Linked DNA regions of Homo sapiens: all the other regions are linked to region 1. Evidence: fine-mapped expression QTL. A gene starts in region 1. Each other region holds a variant in brackets. All regions are shown on one strand. Distances are from middle to middle. Region 1 holds the start of EPS15 (epidermal growth factor receptor pathway substrate 15). Region 2 overlaps EPS15 (epidermal growth factor receptor pathway substrate 15). Region 3 overlaps EPS15-AS1 (EPS15 antisense RNA 1). Region 4 has its middle 16 kb from the start of TTC39A.

Region 1 (2,608 bases):
ATAAGGCAGAGTATAAAAACGGTCACATCAGAACAACTTAGAGGTGGGGTGTGGAGTTCCTAGAAGGCTTCTTGAAGTAGGTGGTATATACTCTGAGACTTTGAAGATGAATTTCAAGTAACTGGGTATTCCAACTGAAGGTTGGCAGCATCAGAAGGTGTAGGATGTGTTATGTTTAATATAGGCAGGAACGAAGGCCTTTACTGAGCATGCACTGTAATGCTAGGGTCTGACGATATAGAAATATATTGAAAACAGTTCTTGCCATTGAGGAGCTCTTAATCTAGAGGGATAGATAGGTGTAAACTGTCATTAGGGTGATGACTTCACAAGGTAGAGAAGAAAGGTTATAAAGGAGAGTGTGTAACTCTGACATAAGGAAGAGAAAAAGATACTTTGCAAAGGAGGTGAAACTTGAATTATGTCCTGAGAAAGAAGGAGGAGTTTGCTAAGTGGATGATGGGAGAAGCTAGGAGTGCTACAGGCACCAGCGTTCCCTTGTTAAACAATCTAAATGTGACAGGCACCAGGCAAATACATTTTTGCTTCCCCTTTCCAAATGGATTTTGGCTGTGGGAGGGAATGACTTAATGTCTTCTTTTCCAATATACTAGCAGATGGTTAAATATTTACAGTTAGACTTGGATTCTAATTCAGCTATATAATTAGCTGTATGACCTTAGTAAGACACTTATTTGTGTTTCAGTTCCTTCATTCATACAATTCAAAAAATAAGAGTCTAGTACAGAGCCTGGCATATATAAAGTGCCATTATTATTTTCTATCATTATCTCATTTAGTCTTTGTAAGTAACTGGGCCTCTAGTTACAATTTCCCCCATTTTTCAGAAGCAGGAGCTCAGCGTAGGTAGGTGGCCTGTCTGAAGTTCACAGGTCAATCTGCAGTCGCCTCCGCAGCCCGTCCGCTTTAATTTTATGTCCGCGCCGGGTTTTCCAAGGCGGCCCCGGGGGCAGGCTCTGGTCCGGTGGCCGAGACTCCGGCGCCAGGGTTTGGGCGGCGCCGCGGCCGGCTCCGGCGGGCGGGCAGGCGGGCGGGGCCAGGCGGGGCGGGGCGGGCGTGGGGAGGGAAGTTGTGGAAGTTAGGGGAGACGCCCGCCCGCCCGCCCCGGCCTCGCCTGCGGCCGCTCCCTCCGCCTCCTCCCCGCCCCGAGCCCCAGTCAGCCCGTCTTCCTTCCCCTCCCTTGCATGATGGAAACACCATGGCTGCGGCGGCCCAGCTCTCTCTGACACAGGTAACGCCACACGCCCGTCCGCCGGGCTTGGCCGGCCGGTGCCCCCTCCCCCACCGCCCTCAGCTTCGCCGACTTCTTGGCTTGTGGGCCAAGCAGGCAGCTTCTTGGCTTGTGGGCCGGGCGGCCGGTGTGTGTGAGGGAAAGCGGGTGCGACTGCGGGAGGGCGCCCTCCGGAGCCGGAGCCCCCCTGCGGCCGCCGCGACCTCGCCCAGGGTCGTCGGGCGCCTCCTGCCCCGCCCCGCGCGGCCCTCGCCGCCCTCCGCGCCGCTGCCGAGTGGACTGTGACCCGGCCGCGCTCTGCCGGTGCCGGGCCGGCTCCCGCGGGGCAGCTTTCACCTACCCAGGAAGTTTCCTCCCACAGGGCCGCACGCATCCCAGGTGAGCTCCTGTTGAGCTCGCGCGGGCCGGCCGCACCCCCGGGCCGCACGAGGCTCGCCCGCCAGGCCGGCTGCGCGCCGCCCCCAGTAGGAGTTGCCTTCCAGAGCCGGACGCGCAGGCCCCCCAAGCCAGTCTTTCCTCTCCAGACCTGCCTTTCTCCCAGGGTCCGACGGAAGCCCTCCCTTCCCAGAGTTTAATGTAGTTAGCCTCGCCTCCAAAGAAGTCTCATCCTACTCAACTACCCACTCTGCCGGCCCCTTCCTCCGTTCAGCCTCTCCCCCCTCCTGATCAGGTTTCCTTCTGGGTCAGACCCCCAATGCAGCCTTTTGCCACCCACGTCTGCTTCCACTTCAACTTCCCCTCGGGGGGCTCACGCCTGATCGCTGTCCAGGTGGATCCCTTTAACGGGTGTGGTGGCTCCGCCAGTCTTGGTGCCAGGAACGGCCTCCCGGGGAGCACTTTTCTTGGGGGGAATCCTCAGCAAAACCTGTTCTCGAGCTTCCCTCTTGCCTCGTTGCTTCCTGTCAAAGTCCAGTCCTTGTGCTTCTCAGAAAACCTCTAAACATCACTCACACTGGGAACCTGGTCCCTCCCTCTCTGTAAAGAAGCCAATTACAATGTAAACATGGTGTCCGGGATGATAAGGTGACAGACACCTGCCAGTTCCTTCCTGCTCCTGTGACCCAAACTCTCCCCCGCGTCTCCTCAGACGGTTCTCTCCAGAGCTGGTGGCGCGTGCTTCCCGATTGGGGCCCATCCCGTCTTCCTTGCCTGCATTGTGGTATCTCACTGCCATCTTGTACTCCTTGGCCTAGATTCGTCGGTGCTTCTAAGGCTTTAGCGCTGGGATAGGGCAAACATTTCGGCAGTGGAGTTTTCTGTGTTTAAAATCAAGAGGCTTTGGGGTGCTTTGCCTAGCACTGTAGGATAGAGAGAAAAAAATGTTTTCTCAGAAACCAGGAGTCACGTACATGCTTC
Region 2 (2,608 bases), 67 kb after region 1:
CTTTTAATAGGAATAAGTACAATATAATAAGAAAACAAAATCACAACCCAGCAGTATTAAAAGTATTCTGTTCACTTTTGCTCTTTTATTTGGAGGTATAATTTTTGGCTTTAGTTTTGCCAGGGAAACTATTTTCAAGGCAACATGAAATTAATAATATATATTTTTAACTTTCATAAAAATGTGTTGTCTATTGGCAGCAGATGGCTAACGTTGCTTTTTCGCTTCTAGTGTCCACTTTTCCAGGAAATGACTCCCATCTGCAGCAAGAGAAGTGCTGACTGTTAATGTGTACACTAGGCACTTCTCTTAGCTCAGTGCCATTCTGACAATTTCACAGTACATATATTGTGAATTTGGTTGGAAGTGTATGTTAGTCAGATTGTTTTCTTTCTGGAGTTTCAGGCTTTTGGAAATAAAAAGTTTGTGTGTTTCTAAAACTGAAATTGAATTCTTCTAGGTTGGCTAGTGAAAAAGGAGAGGAGAATTCTTGGTTAAGTGTGGTTCCTGGACAAACAGCATCAGCATCATTCGGGAACTTGTTAAAAATGCAAATTCTCAGGCCCAACCTTGCTGGTTAGAAAATTCTGAGTGCAGGGGCCAGAAATCTGTGCTTTATCATGCTGTCCAGGTAATTCTGATGCCTGCTAAAATTTGGGTACCAATGGGTTAAGGTTTAGTTTTATCGCTTGTAAAGGACAGCGTGGTATTGTAAGATTACATATGTGCTGCTAATAAAGCTGATCAAATTTGGAAAAAACAAGAGCTTTGTAGCCAGAAGATGTTGGTTTGAACCCCACTGTATCACTTCTTAAAAATATTATATTGGGCAAGTTACTTAGCATCTTAGCTTCAGTGTGTTCATTTGTAAAATGAGATTGGTAATCCTGGAAATCAGTGATGAATGTTGTTGCATTGAGTGCTCAATAAATAAATTGAGGGGTTGGGTGTGGTGGCTTACTTGATCCCAGAAGTTTGATACCAACCTGAGCAACGTAGTGAGACCCCCATCTCTGCAAAACATAAAAAAATTAGCCAGGCATGGTGACGTACGCATGTAGTCACAGCTACTTGGGAAGCTGAGGTGAGAGACTCACTTGAGCCTGGGAGGTTGAGGCTGCAGCAAGCTGTGTTCTCGCCACTGCATTCCAGCCTGGGCAACAGAGTGAGCCTTTGTCAATAAATTATTAAATAAAATAAACAAATTAAATAAATATATAAATATATGTGAAAGCCCCACAAAACTTAATATATGATTATATGCAAATTTTCTCTGGAAGAAAAAATTTAACAAGAGACTGGGCTCAGTGGCTCACACCTGTAATCCCAGCATTTTGGGAGGCTGGGGTGGGTGGATCGCTTGAGCTCAGAAGTTGGAGAC[C/A]AACCAGCCTGGGCAACATGGCTAATCCTCATCTCTTTAAAAAAAAAAAAATTAGCTGGGTTTGGTGGCGTTTACCTGTAGACCCAGCTACTTGGGAGACTGAGGTGGGAGGAAGGCTTGAGCCCAGGAGACGGAGGTTGTAGTGAGCCAAGATTGCGTCACTGTGCTGGGCAAAAAACAAACCAACCAAAAAAAAAGAAATAAAAATTTAAGAAACATGCAAGCTTTCTTTTCGTGGTTGCTGGACTCTTTCTAGAGGTTCCAAGTTAGTTTGAGTGATTTCATATGCTAAAAGATAGTTATGGAAAACTTTCATGCTCTGAAAGTGTTGAAGGTACCTTGAATGCTTTAAAATGAAGAGAATATATTCTGGGACAGTCTGTATGCAAATTTTTCCCATTTTGTGCAAGTGCTTTATGTATTAAAAATACTTGTCATGGTTCAAGAATCAATATAAGAAGATATACAGTGAAAAAAATCTCATTTCCACCCCTGCTCTCAATTGCTCCATTTATCCCTATTCTATGCCTAATTTTCTTAATTTCTTATTTATCTTAGAATTTCTTTTTTTTTCTTTTCTTTCTTTCTTTCTTTTTTTTTTTTTTTTTTGAGATGGAGTCTCTCTCTGTTTCCCAGGCTGGAGTGCAGTGGCACAATCTCAGGTCATTGCAGTCTCCACCTCCCAAGGTCAATCAATTCTCCTGCCCCAGCCTCCCAAGTAGCTGGGATTACAGGCATGCGCCACCACGCCTGGCTAATTTTTTTGTATTTTTAGTAGAGATGGAGTTTTACCATGTTGGCCAGGCTGGTTTCGAACTCCTGACCTCAGGTGATCCACCCACCTCAGCCTCCCAAAGTGCTAGGATTACAGGCGTGAGCCACCACGCCCAGCCTATCTTAGAATTTCTTAATGCAAATATAAACAAATATAACTAATTATTTCCTCCTTACCACAAAAGATAACCCACTAAACACACTGTTCAACACTATACTTTTTCATAGTTAACAGTTTATCTTGGATACCTTTTCACTATGAGAGCTCCATGATTCTTTTTTTCCTGGTTAGCATTATTCAAGGCTATCCACAACAAACTGCATCCAATTTAAGTATATAATTTGATGAGTTTTGGCAATTATATGCCTGAAGGCACCACCACAGTTAAGACACACAATGTTCTTTGTGATTTTTTTAATGCTTTATAGTATTTCATTATATGGATATACCAT
Region 3 (2,608 bases), 42 kb before region 1:
ATCATGATAACTCACTCACTATGCAGTACCAAGGGGGGATCGTGCTAAACCATTTATGAGAACTCTGCCCCCATGATCCAATCACCTCCCACCAGGCCTCACCTCCAACACTGGGGATTACAATTTGACATGAGATTTGGGTGGGGACACAGATCCAAACCATATCAATTGGCCTTTCTGATTGCATGAGATCAGAAGAATGACAAAATACTAATGCCTTGTTCACTGGTTCTTTGCTTAGGGAGAATGGAAACCTTGGATCATTGAAAATCCCAATTACCAGGGGGAGTAGATTCATCCCAAAATAGACAACCCTAAATATAAGCCTGACGCCACCATTTGTCACTATTATAACATTAGTGTTCTCAGCCTGGACCTTTGGCAGGTAAAGCCCTCTGAGCTCAGAGCCACTGAGCCACAGTCTCTCAGTTTTCACAAAGTAGAAAGAGCCTCAGGCTGGAAATCACAAGACTTGAATAAGTCTTGGTCTTTATAAGCCTCAGACTGCTGATCTTTTAAATGGGGGCAGTCATAGTCTTCCTAATAATTATAAGTTACTAAAATTTACTGAGTCCCTCTCATGTACCAAATGCTGTATTAAAGACTTTGCATATGCCATTTAATTTTCACTAGCGAGTCTCCTACTTGTTTTTTTTATTTTGGAAAAATTTAATATATTCTCTATTGTTAAGTACACCAGATGCTGGACTTCTGAAACAACAATTGTACTTCAGCATAATTGCATTTTCTACATTTTTTCTGTTCATGTTGCTTGTTCCTCTGATTTACCTAGAATCAGTGAATCTGAAAAACAAAAAGATTCTTTAAGCACCTGGTAAATTTCAGGTCCCACATTAGAAAATGAGCAAGCATCAATAATATTGATGGGGGTGAAAATATGACACTGTGAAAGTCTCCTACTTCTAAATGTGAAAAGGAGACTCAGAAAAGTTAAATAATTTGCCTGAAGACATACATCTGTTAAGGTAAGTAGAAAAGCTAGAATTTAAGTACAGCTCTTTTTGTGTTTGTTTGAGACAGAGTCTCACTTACTCTGTCACCCATGCTGGAGTGCAGTGATGCAATTTCAGCTCACTGCAACCTTTGCCTCCTGGGTTCAAGTGATTCTCCTGGCTCAGCCTCCTGAGTAGCTGGGACTACAGGCATGCACCACTACGCCTGCCTAATTTTTCTATTTTTAGTAGAGACAGGGTTTCACCATGTTGGCTAGGCTGGTCTCCAACTCCTGACCTCAAGTGATCCACCGCCTCGGCCTGGGATTACAATCGTGAGCCACCGTGCCCGGCTGAGTGCAGGTCTTTCTGATGTCAGATTCAAAGTTCCAATACTTTACGCTGCTTCTGCTGGTCCTACGTGATCCTTGGAGGTGCTTCTAGGGATAAAGGGAAATCAGAGATGTGGTAAAACTCTGAAACATTAAAATTCCCGGACAGATGTTAGGGGTGATTGCCCCAGCCATGATGATAAGTCCTGACCCAGCTTCCCTCTCTCTGCCAGTCTTCTTTCCTTTAATTGGAAGGTAAAAAGGAGGGGACCAATAC[G/T]CCAGCCTTTAAAAAGTTGTTGTCCTCTCCATCTCTTTCTTCTCTGAGACTTATTAAGAAAGATGGGGAGGACTCCTCCCCAAATCAGGAGAAAAGAGAGTGGCTCAAGGCCCCAGAGTAAAGGCCTTGGCCATGATTCCTCCCAGGAGTCTGTTAGAAACTATAATCTACAAAGTCCTGGATGAAGAATTCCCCTGGAGAGGAAGGGAACTCACTTTTGTTAAACACTGGCCTGGGGTGAGTGCTTTACCTACATTACCTCCCCAAATTCTCACAACTCTATAAGGTAAGTACTATTATCCCTTATTATTTCCTCATTTTATGTTTGAGAGAATTGAGACTCAGAAACACCAAGCGACATGTCCAAGAGCACACAGCTAACGCATGGTAGAGACACGATTCAAACATAGGTCTGTCAGCCTCTAAAGCCTTTGCTGTATTGATTACACCCACTGTACAACAGAGCCTCTGGAAGCCACAGCCACCTGTCCTTGGGTATATCCTGCAAAGTCCCATGGCCACGTGTCTCAGTGTCTCTGATCAGTGATTTCTACAGTTCAGAGCCACCGAAGGTTTCTGGGACAGACGCCCTCTATTTGAAGCTTTCTTAGTTTGTTTATTTATTTTCTACTTTATTTATTTATACTTTCTTGCTTCTCTGGCTTAAGAAGACCAACATAGGAGTACAAGGAGGTCATGTATGTAAATAACCAGGAGCATGTGTTGGGGAGTGGGGAAGGGTTCAGAAGAAAAGGAAGGAAGGGAGGAAGGGACACATTGTATCTTTCTTTTCTTTTCTTCCTATCTAATTTGAAGAATGTGGATACACTTTGCATTGTTATTTTTTTTTTACAGTTGTCTCTTTTTAATACATAAGGAGAACTTTCTACATCTTGTAAACATATGTGACCATATTAATATGCCTAATCTGATTATTTCATTAAAATGCTTATCCCCCCACTGAAAACATTAAGGTACACATTTTAAACTGTATCTTTGTTCATATACAAAATTAAAAGTATTTGACACTAATTGCTCTGGGTTCT
Region 4 (2,608 bases), 170 kb after region 1:
GCTCCAGTGGAAGGGAGGATGGGAAGAATAAAACTGATTCTACCTTGGGTTTATTACATGATTCAAAATAAGCTTGAAAAAGTGGCTTGTAAATGCTTTGTGCATCTAATAGCTTGCGTGGCAGGAAAACTAGGGCTAGGGTTAAGATATACATTCTCAAGTCGGGCTGTGTGTGTTGAGTCCTAGCTCTGCCACTTAACTAGTTTGTGTGATCTTGAGCAAATTAATTCCTACCTGCCTCACTTTTTCAACTATAAAATTGGGATTGTAAAAGAACATACATGTTAGGATTATTTTGAGGACTAAATGAGTTGGCACATGTGAAGAGTTTAAAATAGTGCCCAAGTAACATAATTCTAAACAGATGAGGAAGAAGAATAAGAAACAAGCCTTGAAGTTTAAGAACCCCGGGATTGAATCCCAGCTCCTGATTTGATCTTAGGAACATTTCTAAACTTCTGACCCAAATATTCTTAAAACAGTTGTCTAGATTAGAGGTAGATACGTAAAGGCTCTCTGCATAGTGCCTGCCATTGGGTAGAAGCTTGATAGGTATTAGCTCCTTCTTTATTTACTCACCATTGAGTACCTACTATGTATAGCAATAGTGCTGAGCTCTGTAGAAGACACATGAGATACTATCTGTACCTTCAGAGAGAAATCTGAAATACCATTGTAAATAACTTATACAAGGATTTTAAAATATGTAATGCTAAATGCTGTGAGAGAGACAAAATGTATCCTCTGAAAACGGAGAGACCGCTCTGATGGGGAGATCCTGGATGGCTTCCTGGAGGAAGTGGTGCTGGCTGTGGGCTGACAGGCTCGGTGAGATTAATCCTCTTAGTAAACTGGGCTCTGGGCCCATAGAAGGTCAGGCTTCTGAGGTCCTGTGGCTCTTCTTGCCTGCGAACCCAGGAGAAAGTTGGCTAAGTGCTCAGTGCTGGCCAAGCTGGACAAGGCTCTGGACTAAGGGGTTTGGGTCCCTGGGCATACTGTAACTGGATTTTCCAGATTTAGAAGCTCTAGCTTTGTGATCAGATAAGCAGTATTCCCCGGCCCTTGTTGATCTGCAAAGACCATGATATGAGTGAAAGGTCATATGTTCTCTGCTGCCTACCAGGGAAGAGTGAGAGAAATTGCCCAGATGGTCCTTAGAGCCTCTGCCCTCTGGGCAGCTTTGCCCAGGGCCTCCCACTCCGTGCTCAGCCCACCCATGGTCCATAGGCAGGGTGGGAGGAAAGCACCAGATTGGGCAGAGAAGCCTGGGTGTAAGACCTGA[C/T]TTCACAACTTGGTTTCAGGAAAGGTCGTTCACCCCTCTGAACCTGTTTCATCAACTGTAAAATGGGGATGAGTGAGTATGTAACAAGATGCAGATAAATAAGAATTGGTGTAAACTGCCTGGCTCAGGGCTTGACACATGAGAGAACACCTGACATGTGAAAACCAGTCACCACTTATTGGACACGAAATTTGTATTGCACAAGTACCTAGGATACAGACCCAGCCCAAAAGGAAACAAAAATGGGCCTTAGCCACCCTGCCCCTGCCCTGTGTTCAACCCCCACCTTCTCTGATGAGCTAAATCTCCAGGGGTCCCTGAATCCATTCTTCACACTGGAGCTGGAGCAGGCCTTCTCAAATGCCTCCTCACGGTGCTCCCCTGCTCCTTGTCCTTAGTTGGGCCTCCCATAAAAGCCCCTGGACTGCACGCCAGGGGATCCCCTTGCTCCAGAGCTGATTCTGCTTGGTGGTGGTAATTTAAAATAAAAACCAAAAATGTACGCAGCCTAAGATGAAATGTGGGGCTTCAAAGAAAGTTTACACTGGAGATGGGGCGGTGGCTCATTCTCCTCTGTCCCCCGACCTGCCACGGGGTACTGGACTCATAAGTCGGTGAAGTGGGTCACTCCAGGGCCTGGCCTGGCCTGCAGCCTCCACCCTCAGGCCCAGACAGCTGCTCTCCACTTCCCTGCCCATCAGCCCCCTGCTGCTGGTGCTCTGTGCCCAGCATTTGACTCGGTCCCGAGCTTCTGACCCCATTCCGGCGAGGCCCTAGCAAAGCTGGCTCTGTATGTAGGGAGGAGGGAACAGGGTTGGTGGTGCTGCTATGTCCCGCAGGGACCCTGGTAAGGCCATCGTGTGGCCCGTCAGTTTGGAGGCTGGGCTCTGGACCGAGTGGGACCGGCCGCTGGCCCCCTTGTGACCTTGGACAAAGCCTGGAGCTCCGTTTCTCCCGGTGCCCAATGAGGGGTTTCAGAGTGTTTGGGGTCCTTTCTGGTTCTGGGTGGGAGTGGGCTTGCCCAGGGACCTCAGGCCCGCTCTAGGGACACTTAAGCCCTTCCACTTTGGGGCAGGGAGGCGCAGGTCCAGGGCGGGGAGGAGCCACGGGTCCCGCCCTGCCCGCCCCGTCCAGGTGCTGCCACTGTAGCCTCCACGGCCGCCGCCGCCGCCGCGAGGGGCCGCCCGCGGCCCCGTCCGAGCCCGGCCCGCGCCCATGGCCTTTCTGACCACCTGGAAGGAGGCGGCCTCCGGGAAAAGCGACCGCAGGTACCGGGCAGGGGTGGGGACTCGGCGGAAGGCGCGGACGGGACCAAGGGGCCGCCGG

The links. PIP is the estimated chance that this variant, and not a neighbour inherited with it, causes the effect.
Region 2: its variant is the best candidate, but not a certain one, in a credible set for the expression of EPS15 in whole blood (INTERVAL, PIP 0.59).
Region 3: its variant is the best candidate, but not a certain one, in a credible set for the expression of EPS15 in whole blood (TOPMed, PIP 0.62).
Region 4: its variant is the best candidate, but not a certain one, in a credible set for the expression of EPS15 in whole blood (INTERVAL, PIP 0.77).

The regions. Positions count from the first base shown.
Region 1 is chr1:51,517,843-51,520,450 of GRCh38, reverse strand. EPS15 (epidermal growth factor receptor pathway substrate 15) reads left to right here and starts at 1,185. Exons shown (of 25, transcript NM_001981.3): 1 at 1,185-1,252. The coding sequence starts at 1,220. It overlaps EPS15-AS1 (EPS15 antisense RNA 1), which reads right to left and starts at 2,179. Exons shown (of 5, transcript NR_183651.1): 1 at 2,005-2,179. It also overlaps a transcript of OSBPL9 not described here. RefSeq lists silencers at 962-1,151, 1,302-1,771 and an enhancer at 1,002-1,930.
Region 2 is chr1:51,450,873-51,453,480 of GRCh38, reverse strand. The region is part of intron 8 of EPS15 (epidermal growth factor receptor pathway substrate 15); the gene reads left to right. Among named protein-coding and RNA genes, the nearest start is that of EPS15-AS1, 66 kb to the left of the region's middle. The variant C/A (reference allele first, on the strand shown) is at 1,382.
Region 3 is chr1:51,559,667-51,562,274 of GRCh38, reverse strand. EPS15-AS1 (EPS15 antisense RNA 1) reads right to left here. Exons shown (of 5, transcript NR_183651.1): 2 at 1,252-1,393. It also overlaps a transcript of OSBPL9 not described here and the pseudogene CALR4P. Among named protein-coding and RNA genes, the nearest start is that of EPS15, 42 kb to the right of the region's middle. The variant G/T (reference allele first, on the strand shown) is at 1,563.
Region 4 is chr1:51,344,933-51,347,540 of GRCh38, reverse strand. It overlaps a transcript of TTC39A not described here. Among named protein-coding and RNA genes, the nearest start is that of TTC39A, 16 kb to the right of the region's middle. RefSeq lists a silencer at 2,276-2,608. The variant C/T (reference allele first, on the strand shown) is at 1,283.